4 linked regions of the Homo sapiens genome follow. The protein of the gene in region 2 purifies or fractionates together with the protein of the main gene of each other region. This does not show direct contact. Each region holds a gene or a part of one and is shown on either strand. Other genes may lie near its edges.

Region 1 (3,500 bases), on a different chromosome or scaffold from region 2:
ATAGATACAGCACAACTGCCCTCTGAAACACTTATATAATTTTTACAAACATCACCTCTGGATAGGTCCCCTTCTTGCAGCCAACTTACATGAATAAACCACAGAAGATTCACTATGATGACTGTAGGAAGAGGATGGAATCGGGGTCTAAAGTGAGCTTGTAATGAGTGGTGTGGGAGAAGCTGGGCATCCAGAAGTGGGTCGTCTTCAATACTCTGGGTGATATCCAAGGAACCCTGGGGTGCAGAAAAACAAGCAACCTATAATCACCACTTTCTAGATTATGTTTCTAAGACAAATCTACTAAACTACAGAGCTTTTTAACCACATACAAATTAAAGGCAAGAGAACACATTGCCTACCTGAATCCAATTTTTTAAAAATTAATTATTAATTTAATTTAATTAATTAAAAAATTAATTAATTTTTTAAAAACTGTAGCAACACGGTCTCACTATGTTGCCCAGGCTGGTCTTGTTTGTTTGTGTTTTGTTTTTTGTTTTTGAGACAGTCTCGCTCTGTTGCCCAGGCTGGAGTGCAGCGGCGCAATCTTGGCTCACTGCAACCTCTGCCTCCCAGGTTCGAGCAATTCTCCTGCCTCAGCCTCCTGAGTAGCTGGGACTACAGGTGTGCACCACCACACCCAGCTAATTTTTTTTTTTTTTTTTTTTGAGATAGAGTTTCACTCTTGTTGCCCAGGCTGGAGTGCACTGGCACAACCTTGGCTCGCCGAAACCTCCACCTCCCGGGTTCCAGCAATTCTCCTGCCTCAGCCTCCTGGGGTAGCTGGGATTACAGGCATGCACCACCACACCCGGCTAATTTTTTATTTTTAATTTTTAGTAGAGATGGGGTTTCTCTATGTTGGTCAGGCTGGTCGCGAACTCCTGACCTCAGGTGATCCGCCTGCCTCGGCCTCCCAAAGTGCTGGGATTACAGGCATGAGCCACCGTGCCCGGCACACATCCAGCTAATTTTTGTATTTTCAGTAGAGGGAGGGTTTCACTGTGTTGGCCATGCTGGTCTCAAACTCCTGACCTCAGGTGATCTACCCACCTCGGCCTCCCAAAGTGGTGGGATTACAGGCATTAGCCACAGTGCCCGGCCCCAGGCTAGTCTTGAACTCTTGGCCGCAAGCTGCAATTCCAGCTACTCGGGAGGCTGAGGCAGGAGAATCACTTGGACCCAGGAGGTGGAGGTTGCAGTGAGCCGAGATTGCGCCACTGCACTCCAGCCTGGGCGACAGAGAGACTTCGTCTCAAAAATATGGATATATACTGCATTGTATATACTTTTAATTTGCTAAGAGTGTAGATCTTAAGTGTTCTCATCACATGTTAAAAAAAAGAAAAAAAGAATATGGTTCATGGGAAGCACATAACAAATCAGCAAATGAAAAGCATAGAAGACAATGCCAAAAAATTTAGGTCAGCTAACTGCACTACAATGAGACAGAAATGAAGGATTCATGAATAGGTTTTGGCTACACAGAATGAGAGCTCTTTATTTTGGAAGTAGGTAGTAGGACAAATGATGTAAGAGATGGCTGTTGATTGCTAAGATTACAAAGATAAGGACAGTAATCTAGGGTGTAACCTAGCTCTGGAGTGGGCTCCTCAATTTCCAGTAGCAGGTATTCAACACTGCTCTGCAACTGTTTTTGTTGTTTTGTTTGTTTGTTTGTTTTTGAGATGGAATCTCGCTCTGTCGCCGAGGCTGGAGTGCAGTGGCTCAATCTCGGCTCATTGCAACTTCTGCCCCCTGGGTTCAATCGATTCTCCTGTCTCAGCCTCCTGAGTAGCTAGGATTAAAGGCACGCGCCACTATGCCCGGCTAATTTTTGTATTTTTAGTAGAGATGGGGTTTCGCCATGTTAGCCAAACTGGTCTCAAACTCCCAACCCCAGGTGATCCGCCTGCCTCAGCCTCCCAAAGTGCTGGGATTACAGGCATGAGCCACCGCGCCTGGCCAAGTCTTTTATTCAATGCCTAGATTGCTTCCTGTTTAGTTTACCATAACTCATGGTACAATTCAGATTACTCCTGTTCTCTTCAAGACCCCTCTGCCTCTAGCTCATTCTCAGTCAGCAGATGTTGGAGCCTTGAGATCTGCTCTTCCCTTAGCTAATGTCTGTGCATTCTTTCATGCTCAGAAGGGGCAATTCCCACCACAGGGCCTTTCTGGATACCCCTAATCTGGATTGTGCCACCCTCCATGTTTTTCAAAGCATTCTGTGCTTGCCTCTTCTATCAAACTATCCTGTGATGGTCTCTTACTTATCTCTTCTCCACTAGACGTCATTGGACCCATTACCTTTACACCTCTTGTCTTTGTAATCCCAGCACTCAACACTATCTCATGGTTGTCACTCAGCAAACATTTGCTAGATGAATGAATGAGTGCCCCAAACCTGTTTCTGCAGTATTTTCTAATTCAATTATGGGCATCATCAAAGACCTGGGCTAATTAGAAGAGATTATCAGGACATACGGGGGATCAACTGTGACCAAAGGCAGTAAGAGCTGTGGTTAAGGTCAGGCTCCTAAGGGCAAACTGCCTGGATTCAAGCACAAGTTTTACCGCTTTCTAGCTGAGAGCAAGTTACTTCATCTCTCATGCCTCAGTTTCCACATCTAAAAAGGAGACTAATAATAGCACCTGCTTCGTAGCTCTGTCAGGAATACTAAATGAGTCACTACACATGCAAGTCCTCATGACACTGCCTGACGCACAGAGAGCACTCAATAAGTATTAGCCACTATTATTTCTTTATTAACTCTTTTCTCTTTTTAATATTTTTTAAATTTTAAAATAAAAATCAACAGGGTCTCGCTATGTTGGCCAGGTTGGTCTTGAACTCTTAGCCTCAAGCAATCCTCCCAAGTGCACTCCCAGTGTGCTAGGATTACAGGTGTGAGCCACCACACTTGGCCTTTTTATTAACTCTTACTTTTGACTTGCACCCCGCTATGGTCTAAATGTTGGTGTCCCCCAATAGTTCCCTGCTTTCCTTTGGGAAGTAATTAAGCCATGAGGGTTCCCCCCCTCATAAATGAGATCAGTGCCCTTATAAAAGAGGCTTGAATGAGCTCCCTTCCACCTTCCACTGCGTGAGGATGCAGCAAGAAGGCGCCATCTTTGAAGCAGAGAGCAACCCCTCCCCAGGGCTCTTGGCACCTTGATCTTGGGCTTCCTGAATCCGTGGCTGCCTTAATCTTGGACTTCCTGTCCTCTAGAACTGTGGTCAATACATTTCTATTTGTAAATTACCCTATTTGTATTTTACTATAGCAACCCAAACAAAGACACTACCCCTATAATCATTACCATTCTATCCACTCAGTGCTGGGGCATGATAAAAAGAGAAAAAATCATTACCATTCTAACTCCTAAACCTGTTATTTCCTCTCTATTCTCACTATCTTAGTCCAGGCCCTCCCATTTCTCATGGCCTTTTATTAGAAGCTTCCAGTCTTCTGGTCTTGGCAATCTCTTTCACT
Region 2 (5,866 bases):
AGAAAAAATCAGTTTAAATATTTCATTTGAAGAATTAACATGGTACTATCTTTAAAAAAATTTCTATCTTCTTCATAATTTACATACACACACTCCCAAGATGGCCCCAAAATTTAAATGCACATATTGAAATCATAAAAATATTAGAAAAATAAAATATGGGAGTTTTAAAAAAATTGTTATTGTAAGGAAGGTATTCTAATTGTGACATAAAACACAGAAGATAAAAAAGATTGACAAATCTGATTACATGAAAATACGAAAACTATGCATAAAAAAATCAAAAGATAAATGAAGAACAGAGAAAAAAATGACAAAGAACTAATTCCCCAAATACATCATGAGAGCTACAATGAGGAAAAGATAAACAACCCATAGAAAAATGGGCAAATGCTATAAATTATTGACATATAGATGGAATACAAAGATCTTTTAGAAGTTCACCCTCACTTTTTAAAAGAAATGAGCAAATTTGAACCACAAGATACCAATTTTCACCTATCTCTATCGAACACTCTATGCTAGTGAGTGAACACCGGTAGGCAATTTGGCAATTTGGCAATTTGGCAAATTGAGGCACATACCTTATGACCCAGAATTCCACTTCTAAGAATTTAACTTACAAGTTTAGACATGCAGATATGACATGGTATGTATACAAGCTTATGTGCTATAGCAGAGTTTTGCAATAGCAAAAGATGAAAATAATCTAAATATTCATCAACGATGTAAGTAAACCAGGTTATATCCACGCAGTGAAATACTATACAGACAGTAAGAACAGTAAAGAGTAAGAAAGCTCCTTATATGTAGGTACAGGAAGATCTCCAAGATGATTTCATTGTTGGTGTAACCAGTGAGGTGCTGAATGGTACATATGGTATTGCTACCATTTGTGTAAAGAAAAAAGAGGGATACTGCAATAGTCCTGTCCAGTTAAAAAAAAAAAAAAGGAAAAGAAAAAAGGGGGAGGGAAATCATGCTCTCTTGTTCTCGTGCTCTCTCTCTCTCTCAGTGTGTGTGTGTGTGTGTGTGTGTGTGTGTGTCAGTGTGTACATATATATATGTGGAATTTCTCTGCAAGAAACCTGCAATATCTGTTGCCTTCCCCTAAGGGGATGGAGGGCTGGGCACCTGCACAACTGATGTGTATACAAAGGCTGAGCAACTGTTATATGTAGAATATATTTACTATATTCTATGTTCCCTTCTGTAACTTTTGAATTTTGTACCATATAAAATTATTCTGTTTAAAGTTAAACAAAACAATGCTATGGAAAAAAAGGGTTTACCACTATAGATATTGCAACATTTTAAATCAATCTAGTTTTTAGGGACCTTAAACAGAGATCTGTGGCTTGCAGCCTTATATCCTTAGACCTTATAGAGTACACAAAAATATACCATTAATAACTTTCAAAACTTCATAAAGAACATTGAAATTCTTTAATCACAATAAGCCATCCAGATCAATTATCACATTAGTGTGTTAGCTGTTGGCTGCAATTTTATACAGAAACTTGGTACAGCAACATTGGTGTCTCTTGCTGATCAGAAAATCCAATGGATTGTTACCATTATCATAGGAATTTATTAAGTGGCACTTTCCAGAGTGTTCCACAGAATACCAGCTCTTTAAGAGATCAACAAGTCTTGTTTGAAAAAATAGTTACAGCCAGGTGTGGTGGCTCACATTTGTAATCCCAGCCACCTTGGAAGGCCAAAGTGGGAGGATTGCTTGAGGCCAGGTGTTCAAGACCAGCCTGGGCAACTCAGCAAGACCCTGTCTCTACAAAAAAAAAAAAAAAAAAAGAAAGAAAAAAAGAAAAAAGAAAAGAAAGAAAAAAAATGGTTCCATAGTTAAAGTGAGTTGTGGAACATTTAATAAAGTATCCCTACTCCAGGATTTTCAAGGTCTAAAGACATTAATGTGAACTGGGCATCTCTAAGTTAGAGGACAGCAGACAGCCCTCTCCAAACTTGCTTAACCATAAACCCTTATCTTAATGAGCATATCAACAGACGGGTGTTCTTCTGAGCCCTTTCTGAGAAATAAATTTTCTGGAAATGTAAATGGTATGCCGGCCAAATGGCAATAGAACCTACCATAAACCTATCCAGCTATATACATAAATGCTTAATAAAAAGTGGGAAGAACGTGCCGGGCACGGTGGCTCACGCCTGTAATCCTAGCACTTTGGGAGGCTGAGGCAGGTGGATCACGAGGTCAGGAGATCGAGACCATCCTGGCTAACATGGCGAAACCCCGTCTCTACTAAAAATACAAAAAAAAATGTAGCCGGGTGTGGTGGCGGGCGCCTGTAGTCCCAGCTACTCGGGAGGCTGAGGCAAGAGAATAGCGTGAACCCGGGAGGCGGAGCTTGCAGTGAGCCGAGATCGCTCCACTGCACTCCAGCCTGGGCTACGGAGCGAGACTCCATCCCCCACTCCAAAAAAAAAAAAAAAAAAAAGGTTGGGGGGAAGGACTATTTACACCACAAAGGGTTTATCTGATGGTAAAAATTTTCAAACTACATTGTTACATGAGTAAATGAGGGAGTCCTCGGTACTAAGCTGATTAGACTCTGAAGTCTAAGAGAACAATTACATGCTATAAGGGCGCCATACCGACTATGATATGAAGTGCGTGGGCCCAGAGAGAGAGAGAGAGCTACGAGGGGAAAGCCTTCTTGGGGATCAGAGAGGCAGCTGCCTAGAGATGGGATGAGAATCTGATATGTCACTAATACCAGGTCTATACGCATCTAGGCAGTACACAAAAACGCATGTCAATATCATGCCACCAGGATCTGGATTTTTATGTCAAAATGCAAAAGCACTCCTCAGACAGACAGCACAGAAACACTTAAGGACTTTGAGATGATTTCTAAGATCCCGTGCATAAATCTGGGGAAAGTGGAAGAAGGCCTTTAGTATGAATTGATTATTTTGCCACTAGGGATAACTCTTTTCTAAAGCAGAGGAATGCTTCAGGCAGCTCAGCCACAATCTAGGCTACGGGGAGACAGCAAAAAAACTACAAAGGAAAATTTTTTTTTTAAGTGGTAAAAAGAACGACTGATTTGGACCACATTTACCTGTCAAACTGCCCATTCAGGGAATTCTAAAACCAGGAAGAGCACCTAAGTGAAACCAATGTTACATTTATTGACAGGCTTGCTGCTAGTCAAACTCGGGGTGAAAGGCAACAATAATACAGAGAGTAGAGAAATGCAAGTATAGAAGAATGGACCCCAGCTTTAACTTGGAAGGGCAAATATTTTGGCCTACACTCAAAGGAAAGTGGGAAATACTTCTAAAATACATACCAATACCGTAGCCACGTTATTTGGAAAAGCCTTTGCCAGGATAGAAGAAGATGCAGTCATTGCTGCAGCAAAGCTAACTGCATCCATTACTCTCACTAGAAAACACATAGCAATAAATACTGGCCCATCTGGAACTCGGTCCAATACACTAAAAAGGAATAAGACAATTCTGAAATGCCAAGCTGGTTTTCTTTTTTTTTTTTTCCTTTTTAACTGTACTCACTAAAAAGAATAGTACCTCACTCATGGTTTTTAGAATAAACCGCTTTAGAATATGATTTTTTTAAAAGAGTTGCTTTGTTGTCTTTTCAGGAGGAGGAAATTACCCTTTTTCTTTTTTTGGTAACCATTTGAGTCATAATGACAGCTTAGTCGCCCTTTTCTGCTGATATAACTGGTCCCCCAGATAATAGCACTAAATAAACTTTTTTGGAATATGTAGAATCAGCTGGGCGCAGTGGCTCACGCCTGTAATCCCAGCACTTTGGGAGGCTGAGGCAGGCAAATCACGAAGTCAGGAGATCGAGACCATCCTGGCCAACACGGTGAAACCCCGTCTCTACTAAAAATACAAAAAATTAGCCAGGTGTGGTGGTGGCCACCTGTAGTTCCAGCTACTCGGGAGGCTGAGGCAGGAGAATGGCATGAACCTGGGCGGCGCAGTTTGCAGTGAGCCGAGATCGTGCCACTGCACTCCAGCCTGGGCGACAGAGTGAGACTCTGTCTCAAAAAAAAGAAAAAGAAAAAAAAAAAAAGAAAAAGAAAACACATAGCAATAAATACTGGCCCATCTGTAACTTGGTCCAATACACTAAAAAGGAATAAGACAATTCTCAAATGCCAAGCTTGTTTTCTTTTTTTTCCTTTTTAACTGTACTCACTAAAAAGAATAGTACCTCACCCATAATTTTTATAATAAATTGCTTTAGAATATGATTTTTTTTAAAAGAGTTGCTTTGTTGTCTTTTCAGTAGGAGGAAATTAACCTTTTTCTTTTTTTGATAACAATTTGAGTCATAATGACAGCTTAGTTGCCCTTTTCTGCTGATATAACTGGTCCCCCAGATGATAGTACTAAATAAACCTTTTTAGAATATGTAGAATCAGCCGAGTGTGGTGGCTCACGCCTGTAATTCTAGCACTTTGGAAGGCTGAGGTGGGTGTATCCCCTGAGGTCAGGAGTTCGAGACCAGCCTGGCCAACATGGCGAAATCCCATCTCTACTAAAAAAGTGCAAAAATTAGCTAAGCATGGTGGTGAGCCCCTGTAATGCCAGCTATTTGGAAGGTTGAGGCAAGAGAGTGGCTTGAACCTGGGAGGTGGAGGTTGCAGTGAGGCGAGATCACACCACTGCACACCAGCCTGGGCAATAGAGTGAGACTCCATCTCAAAAAGAAAAAAAAAAAAAAAAACATGTAGAATCACTCTGACAAGACCTATAAAGAAGAAAGCACCCAGTTTCGATCTCTCCCGTAGTCAGACTGAAACCTTCAAAAAAAAAAAAAAAAGGAATAAAGAAAGAAAATAAACGACCCTTCCAAAAAAATTTTAACCCCATTTCATTTAATATAACAGTTTTCTTCAGTTTACTTCATTATAATCTTACTATACTGGTATTCCTCTATGTTCCCCCATGTACTTATATAAGCTCTTCCACATTATTTGGAACTTTCACATCTGTTTTGCCTCTGGCACTCATTTTTCCTTTTTCTGGAAGTAGCAATGGGGGAAACCATTTTGTTCCATGCTCTGAACTGAGCATGTGACCTGGCCTGGCCAAGCAGAACATTCTTTCCCCATGGCTACAGCCATCAGCAAAGGTCAGGCCAGCGGGGCTTCATTCTGTGACTCTAATAGGAACTATTAGGAAACTGGCACTTTCTACTGAAGCTGCTAGGGGTCCCCTTGCCACCTAAAGGGGAGGGCTTGTTCAAATCACAAGAAGAAAAATTTCTCGTGACATCGTTTCAAATCTGTATTCTGATATTTTTTGAGTTGACACTTTATTAAAGAAATTCACTTTTTTACTGAAGCTAGTAAGTTTCCGTGACTCAGAAAAGTGAGTTAAGTTTCTGTCACTCACAATCACAGGAATTCTAATGAGTAGGTTCAGTAGCAAGCATCACGGAGATCCCCCGGAGGCCTGTTTCCTTAAAATCAATGCCATTTATCCCTGTTCTCTACTTACTCAACTCCTGCCATTAGTCACATGCTATGCATTTGACAGACAATAAATGGAACCATTGACTTAAAGAGTATTTAACAATTTAAACAGAAGATACATTACAAAATCTGTTCAAGCTCCCAAATATAATCAGAAAATGACTTACCCAAAGAGAATTGTAACTCCTCCTGAGACAAACATTCCTGCTACAAACATAAATTTTGCTCCAATATGTACAAGCTATAATAAATGTCAAAGAAGAGTGGTAAATTTATGACTTCCGAAAGTCTATATTGATATAAACAAATCCACTGTATTGGCAAATATAGGATAGGGGAAGACATGTACAGTTAATATATTATAATAATTCTTT
Region 3 (3,500 bases), on a different chromosome or scaffold from region 2:
CCGAGATCACACCACTGCACTCTAGCCTGGGCGACAAGGGTGAGACTCTGTCTCCCAGGAAAAAAAAAAAGGATAAATGAAAGACAAGAAAAATACACGTGCCATATAACAAAGAATTAACATTCCATAAGCGCTCCTACAGGAGGAAAAAAAAAGAGAAAGAAAAATGAAGCAAGGACATGAGCAGACAATTCTCGGTAAAGGAAATCCAATGGCTATTATACGTATCAAATAAGGCTAGCCCCAGTAACAGGGAAGTTAAAATTAAGACAAACTGCATGACCCATTTATCATCTAGCAGACTAGTAAAAATTAAACTATGTATTTATACCCAGTGGTTTCATGATATGGAGAAGTTACTGCTATTTGGGATGAAAATTATGATAACCTATTTAGAGAGTAATCTAGCAATAATAATATTTAAAATATATTTCTCTGTTAACCCAGAATTCCCCCTTTGGAGACTACAGAAATAAAAGCATCAGCATATAAGGCGGCATGTACAAGGATATTTATTGTAGCACTTTGTTAAGTGGCAAAAATCTAGAAATGATCTAAATGTCCACAGGAAAATAATAAATTATGGTACATCCACGCTATAAGACACAATAGGACTGTTTAAAGGAACAAGATAGAATTATATTTACTGTGGGCTGAGTGCAGTGGCTCACACCTGTAATCTCAGCACTTTGGGAGGCCACAGGAGGCAGACTGCTCAAGTCCAGGAGTTTGAGACCAGCCTGAGCAATACAGCTATATCTCATCTCTTATTAAAAAACTAATAGGCTGGGAGCGGTGGCTCACACCTGTAATCCCAGCACTTTGGGAGGCCAAGGTAGGCGGATCATGAAGTCAGGAGATCAAGACCATCCTGGCTAACATGGTGAAACCCAATTCTACTAAAAATACAGAAAATTAGCGGGGTGTGGTGACAGGTGCCTGCAGTCCCAGCTACTCGGGAGGCTGATGCAGGAGAATGGCGTGAACCCAGGAAGCAGAGCATGCAGTGAGCCGAGACTGCGCCACTGCACTCCAGCCTTCGTGACAGAGCGAGGTTCCATCTTAAAAATAATAATAATAATAATAATAATAAAAAATTATATTGGCTGGGTGCGGTGGCTCACGCCTGTAACCCCAGCACTTTGGGAGGCCGATGCAGGCAGATTGCTCAAGCCCAGGAGTTCGAGATCAGCCTGAGCAACATAGCAAAATGTCATCTTTTAAAAAAATAATAATAAAGAATTATATTGCCGGGCACGGTGGCTCACGCCTGTAATCCCAGCACTTTGGGAGGCCGAGGCAGGTGGATCACGAGGTCAGGAGATCAAGACCATCCTGGTTAACATGGTGAAACTCTGTCTCTACTAAAAAAAAAAATACAAAAAAATTAGCCGGGTGTGGTGGTGGGCGCCTGTAGTCCCAGCTACTCGGGAGGCTGAGGCAGGAGAATGGCGTGAACCCAGGAGGTGGAGCTTGCAGTGAGCCGAGATCGCACCACTGCACTCTAGCCTGGGTGATAGAGCAAGACTCCCCATCTCAAAAAAAAAAAAAAAAAGAATTATATTGGCCAGGCACGGTGGCTCACACCTGTAATCCTAGCACTTTGGGAGGCCAAGGTGGGAGGATCATGTGAGGTCGGGAGTTCAAAACCAGCCTGACCAACATGGAGAAACCCCCCCGTCTCGGGTCGGGTGCGGGGGCTCACGCCTTTAATCCTAGCACTTTGGGAGGCCAAGGTGGGCAGATCACGAGGTCAGGAGATGGAGACCATCCTGGCTAACATGGTGAAACCCCATCTCTACTAAAAATACAGAACATTAGCCAGGCGTGGTGGTGGGTGCCTGTAGTCCCAGCTACTCGGGAGGCTGACGCAGGAGAATGGCGTGAACCTGGGAGGCAGAACTTGCAGTGAGCTGGGATCGCGCCACTGCACTCCAGCCTGGGCAACACAGCGAGACTCCGTCTCAAAAAAAAAAAAGAAAGAAACCCCATCTCTACTAAAAATACAAACTTAGCGGGGCATGGTGGCACATGTCTGTAATCCCAACTACTCGGGAGGCTGAGGCAGGAGAATCACTTGAACCTGGGAGGCGGAGGTTGCGGTGAGCTGAGATCACGCCATTGCACTCCAGCCTGGGCAGCAAAAGCAAAACTCCGTCTCAAAAAAACAAAACAAAAATGAATTATATTGGCTGGGCGCGGTGGCTCATGCCTGTAATCCCAGCACTTTGGGAGGCCAAGGCAGGCAGATCACTTAAGGTCAGGAGTTTGATACCAGCCAGGCCAACATGGCGAAACCTCATCTCTACTAAAAATACAAAAATTATCTGGGTGTGGTGGCAGGTGCCTATAATCCCAGCTACTCTGAAGTCTGAGGCAGGAGAATCACTGAACCCAGGAGGCGGAGATTCCCACCACCTGGGTGACAGGGTAAGACTCCATCTCAAAAAAAACAAACAAACAAAAAAAAAGAATTATATTTACTGACCATGACATGTTAAAAAAAAAAAAAAGCGTGTCATAGAGTAATATAAATAATATGATCTCTCTTTAGTAAAAACAAAAAATTCCTATGTACACTTACGTGAGTATGTACAGTACTTAACTAAGCATTGAGAGAAATATTGAAGCGTAAATTCATTCATAATCTGTTAAAATTTGGGGTTAAAATTAAGACTGTCATAGAACAGATGATGTAACACTACAGGGTAAACACTATAGGGTAAACATCCCTAATCCAAAATCTGAAATTCTCCAAAACCTGACATTTTTTGATTGTTGACATGATGCTTGAAGAAATGCTCTTCAAGGCCGGGCGCGGTGGGTCACGCCTGTTATCCCAGCAGGGGAGGCTGAGGCGGGCAGATCACAAGGTCAGGAGATCACGACCATCCTGGCTAACATGGTGAAAGCCCGTCTCTACTGAAAATACAAAAAATTAGCCAGGCGTGGTGGCGGGCGCCTGCAGTCCCAGCTACTCTGGAGACTGAGGCAGGAGAATGGCATGAACCCGGGAGGCGGAGCTTGCAGTGAGCCGAGATTGCGCCACTGCACTCCAGCCTGGGCGACAGGGCGAGACTCCGTAACCAAAAAAAAAAAAAAAAAAGAAAAGAAAAAAATGCTCTGCAAGTGTTTCAGATTTTGGATTTTAGGATTAGGGATGTACAAGTGGTGTAACGCAAATATTCCAAAATCTGAAAAAATCCAAAATATGAAACATTTCTGGTCTCAAGCATTTCAGATAAGAGATACTCAATGTGTATTTGGTTGAAAGAGCTAACTTATATAAATGATTATACAGTTGTACAACTCAAAGTAAAAGGAGTTCCATTAGTGTTTTTACAGCTCAAGTTAGTGAACCTATTTAACTAAACCTCAAAACTAAACAACTGAAAAAGTGTTCAGTCTTAAAAGGAAGCAAAAGAAGCGTTTTTTACTTACCTCTTTTTTTTGAGACAGTCTATCTCTGTCACCCAGGCTGGAGTGCAGTGGCACAGTCT
Region 4 (3,500 bases), on a different chromosome or scaffold from region 2:
ATCACTGAAAGGAACCTGACACTAAACTGTGCTCAACTTAAATCATCAAGGTCTATAGTTATACATACTACATATGGACAACTAGAAGAAGAGAACACTAGGAAGTATTTCACTACAAGTTACTTTCAATACAGAGGATTAAGCATCCATGTTCTATTTTCATAATGAAATAAAGATTCTTCATATGCCATCTTGTTTTTTAAACTGTAAAAATTACAACCATAATTCATATTCTTTAGGAGGCGAAAGCCCTAAAACTAGTTGATGGCCAAAATGACCCCCTGCAGGTTTAAGAGTTGACACACATAGTATGCATAGTAACCGAAAAGATAAAATAAACAAAAAAAGTGCTCTTCAAATTCCTAACTATACACCAACTCACAATAAAATTTGAGTCAAAAAGGGGGGTGAGGGTGGAGGGAGGTGCTTAAGAGTATAAAAAAGAATGTTAACAATTTTAATTAAATAAAACAGAAGTTACCGTAGGGCAATCAGTATATCATATGAATCACAAATTTGAAACTGTTTTATTCAAGTAGAGATACTAAACTGAAATGTCTTATTTAAAAACAACCTAATCCACTAATCCCTAACAGCCACCGTAGGGCCACAGTTTCTCAATATACATAGCTAAAACTAAAAACATAAGTCTATTTTTTACTATTTAACTTGGGAGTCAAAATAATCATTTCTAAAATGAGGATTTCCAAGCTACAGATTTGCACCAGTGATCTCAGTAACTACTTTTCATTATATCATAACCACAAGATTCAGCCAAATAAGGAACAATTTGCAGCCTATAAATAAAGCTGAAATATAGCTCAGTTTAAATAGCATCTGAGGAACTACTGAGTAGGGAAATACTATTGCATTTATCTGAGACAAAAATTATATTGGTAGTACAAGTCTTTCTAAATTCTATCCAAAAAACTAATACCAGTTCAGAAGCCTACTCTGGCCATTTATCACAGTCTATTTGTTACTCTCAAAAAGAAACAACCATTGAGCAATTCTCATTTTGTAAATTTACAACACTCAAGTGTTTAGGATTTACATTATTTGTCTGCCTTTCACAGCACAGAAAGCACCCAGACCTGCGATTGAGAAGGAACAAGAATGAAATACAAAAGTGCTTTTACACAGTGATCATACTTGTAACAACATACACAGGTGTCCCCCTTATCTACAGGGGATACATTCCAAGAACCCCAGTGGATACCTGAAACTGCAGATAGTAACAAACCCTATATATATACTATGCTTTTTCATCAAGCACAGTAAGAGATTAACAATAATAAAATACAACAATTATAACCATATACTGTAATAAAAGTTATGTGAATGTGATGTTTGTCTCTTTCTCAAAATATCTATTGTATTTAATATTTTTGGACTTCATCTGACCACAGGTAACAAACTGCTGAAAGTAAAACAGTGGGTGGGGATCCTACTGTATTTCAAAATTGCTAAGAGAGTAGATTTAAAGGTTCTCACCACACACACACACACACACAAAGGTAAGTGAGGTAATGGACATGTTAATTAGCTTGATTTAATCTTTCTACAATGTACACATACAGCAAAACAGAAAAGTTAGGAGTACTACAAGAATACTGTATAAACTTAAGGTGGCATTAATTTTAAAGTCTGAAAAGAATGACGAATAAGCTAACTACGGGACAGCTTTCCCTTCGAGGAGGGGAATGAGTGTGTAGAAAAGGGAAGATGTTCCTGTTTGTACTCCTGATTCAAGAATTTGCATTCTAAAGAATCCTGACCCATCTAGCCAATGAACTAACAATTCTATCTGAGCCAGGCTGGCCTCAGCACTCAGTGCAAGCCATAGAGACCACAGGTGGGTGTGCACTATGGACTGAGGGACAGAGTAGTCCTCTTAGTATACACATAATCAGAAACTACAAGATATAATTATATGTTCTCCTCTCCCTGAAAGGAATAAGACAATGGCAGGGAACTTTTGAAATGTTTAAAGCATTGAAAAAAAAAATTATTTCTTCTATATATATTTATTGACAAAATTGGCATTTTCAATTTTTAAATAATTTTTAAATAAACCATTGATTTGATTTGATTGTAAAAGTGCTACTTGATCATAGAAGGAAATGGCATATAAGAGGAAAAAAAGTCACCTAAAATTCCAAATCCAAAGGCAAGCACATTTTCTTTTTCTCCTCCGAAGTTTGTATCTAAGTGTAGTGGTGGCAGAACTAGTAGACAAGGATGTCACTGTTAACTGCACAACACCATTCACCCCCTCACTTTCTAACCAAACCCTGACTGTGCTCACGTATCTACTCTCAACCCGAGGCCATCAACTTCCAAGGAAGTAGACCCCAGCCACAACCTAAGATGAATCACGATCCATTTATGCCAATCACAGCGGTACTATTCCCCTTGACCTTGACTCATTTAGGCACTGGCTTGTGTGCAATGCTGACCTATGAAGAGAGGAGAGAGGGACAAGGTAGCATCTGCTATGAGGCTTTAGGGAAAAATTTTTCTCACTGATAGCAACAACCTAGGAAAAAAAAAAAAAAAGTGTGTCTTCTTCCAGGAAACTTAAGTCATATTTTCTTGTGACACTTGAACTTGTGGCAGCCATCTTGCAACCATAAGAGGAACTTGCCAAGGACAAAACAAGGACGTTGCCTGCATCTTCAACCTTTTTCCATTGACTGGATTTTTAAATACACACACACACACACACACACACACACACACACACACACACTCTTCCTGACCCAACTTCTCCCTACTAAAATCTATTTCTCTCTCCTCTTATTCACAGCTAAGCTTCTCAAATTGAGTTGATACAAGTTGTTTCCTCCACTAACCTATGCATTCATCACTAAACATCCCTAAGGCTTTCTTGATTTCCCAAAACTTAGGCTTTTAATAGTCTGTGGTTCCACAGCACATTTTACATGTTGCTACTATAGCATGCTATGGGAATAGTTTGCCTGTCTATTAGACTGTAACTTCTGAAAAGTTCATTATTGCCAATATCTGGAAAAGTTCCTGGCTTATAAAAGCCTAAACATTTGTTTCATAAGTTAAATGTAAACCAAATGCCTAACATGTAGGAATGCCACAAATATTGACATGAATTTAGCAACCCTACTGTCCACATACACTGAAAGTTAAGTATGCGTTCATGTGAGTTGGGGGAGAACAGCAGCAGGAACAGGGAGAAAAGAGAACACAGTGCCTTAGCCTTGAAACTTAAAAACACAGTTTTTCCTCACTCTTCAGAGATTAGAGAGCTGTTCCAAGCTAATTCAACAAAAAAGAAGAGGCTGTTTCCACACTGGCATCTGAGAAGCAGTGGTAGGATAGCTCTCTAGAATCTCAGCTCCTCTGCTATTTGTGACCACTGTTGCCAACCTGCTCAAAGAAGAAAAGGTGGCCCAGCCTTTCTGGGGTCTGGAAAAAGACAAACTAGTCCAAAGACAGGAGGCCCTCAGAGACAAAATATACTT

Evidence for each region.
Region 1: the proteins of SLC18B1 (region 2) and TMEM192 purify together in Homo sapiens (affinity purification with mass spectrometry; one large-scale study listed by BioGRID and IntAct). This does not show direct contact.
Region 3: the proteins of SLC18B1 (region 2) and AP1G1 purify together in Homo sapiens (affinity purification with mass spectrometry; one large-scale study listed by BioGRID and IntAct). This does not show direct contact.
Region 4: the proteins of SLC18B1 (region 2) and BACH1 purify together in Homo sapiens (affinity purification with mass spectrometry; one large-scale study listed by BioGRID and IntAct). This does not show direct contact.

The regions. Positions count from the first base shown.
Region 1 is NC_000004.12:165,102,861-165,106,360, forward strand, and holds part of TMEM192 (transmembrane protein 192), read right to left. Parts: intron 237-3,500; coding exon 90-236; intron 1-89.
Region 2 is NC_000006.12:132,784,105-132,789,970, forward strand, and holds part of SLC18B1 (MFS-type transporter SLC18B1), read right to left. Parts: intron 5,734-5,866; coding exon 5,660-5,733; intron 3,478-5,659; coding exon 3,330-3,477; intron 1-3,329. UniProt on the Homo sapiens protein: Proton-coupled polyamine antiporter involved in the translocation of polyamines from cytosol into secretory vesicles prior to their release via exocytosis.
Region 3 is NC_000016.10:71,798,835-71,802,334, forward strand, and holds part of AP1G1 (AP-1 complex subunit gamma-1), read right to left. Parts: intron 1-3,500. UniProt on the Homo sapiens protein: Subunit of clathrin-associated adaptor protein complex 1 that plays a role in protein sorting in the late-Golgi/trans-Golgi network (TGN) and/or endosomes.
Region 4 is NC_000021.9:29,305,422-29,308,921, reverse strand, and holds part of BACH1 (transcription regulator protein BACH1), read right to left. Parts: intron 1-3,500. UniProt on the Homo sapiens protein: Transcriptional regulator that acts as a repressor or activator, depending on the context. Binds to NF-E2 DNA binding sites. Plays important roles in coordinating transcription activation and repression by MAFK.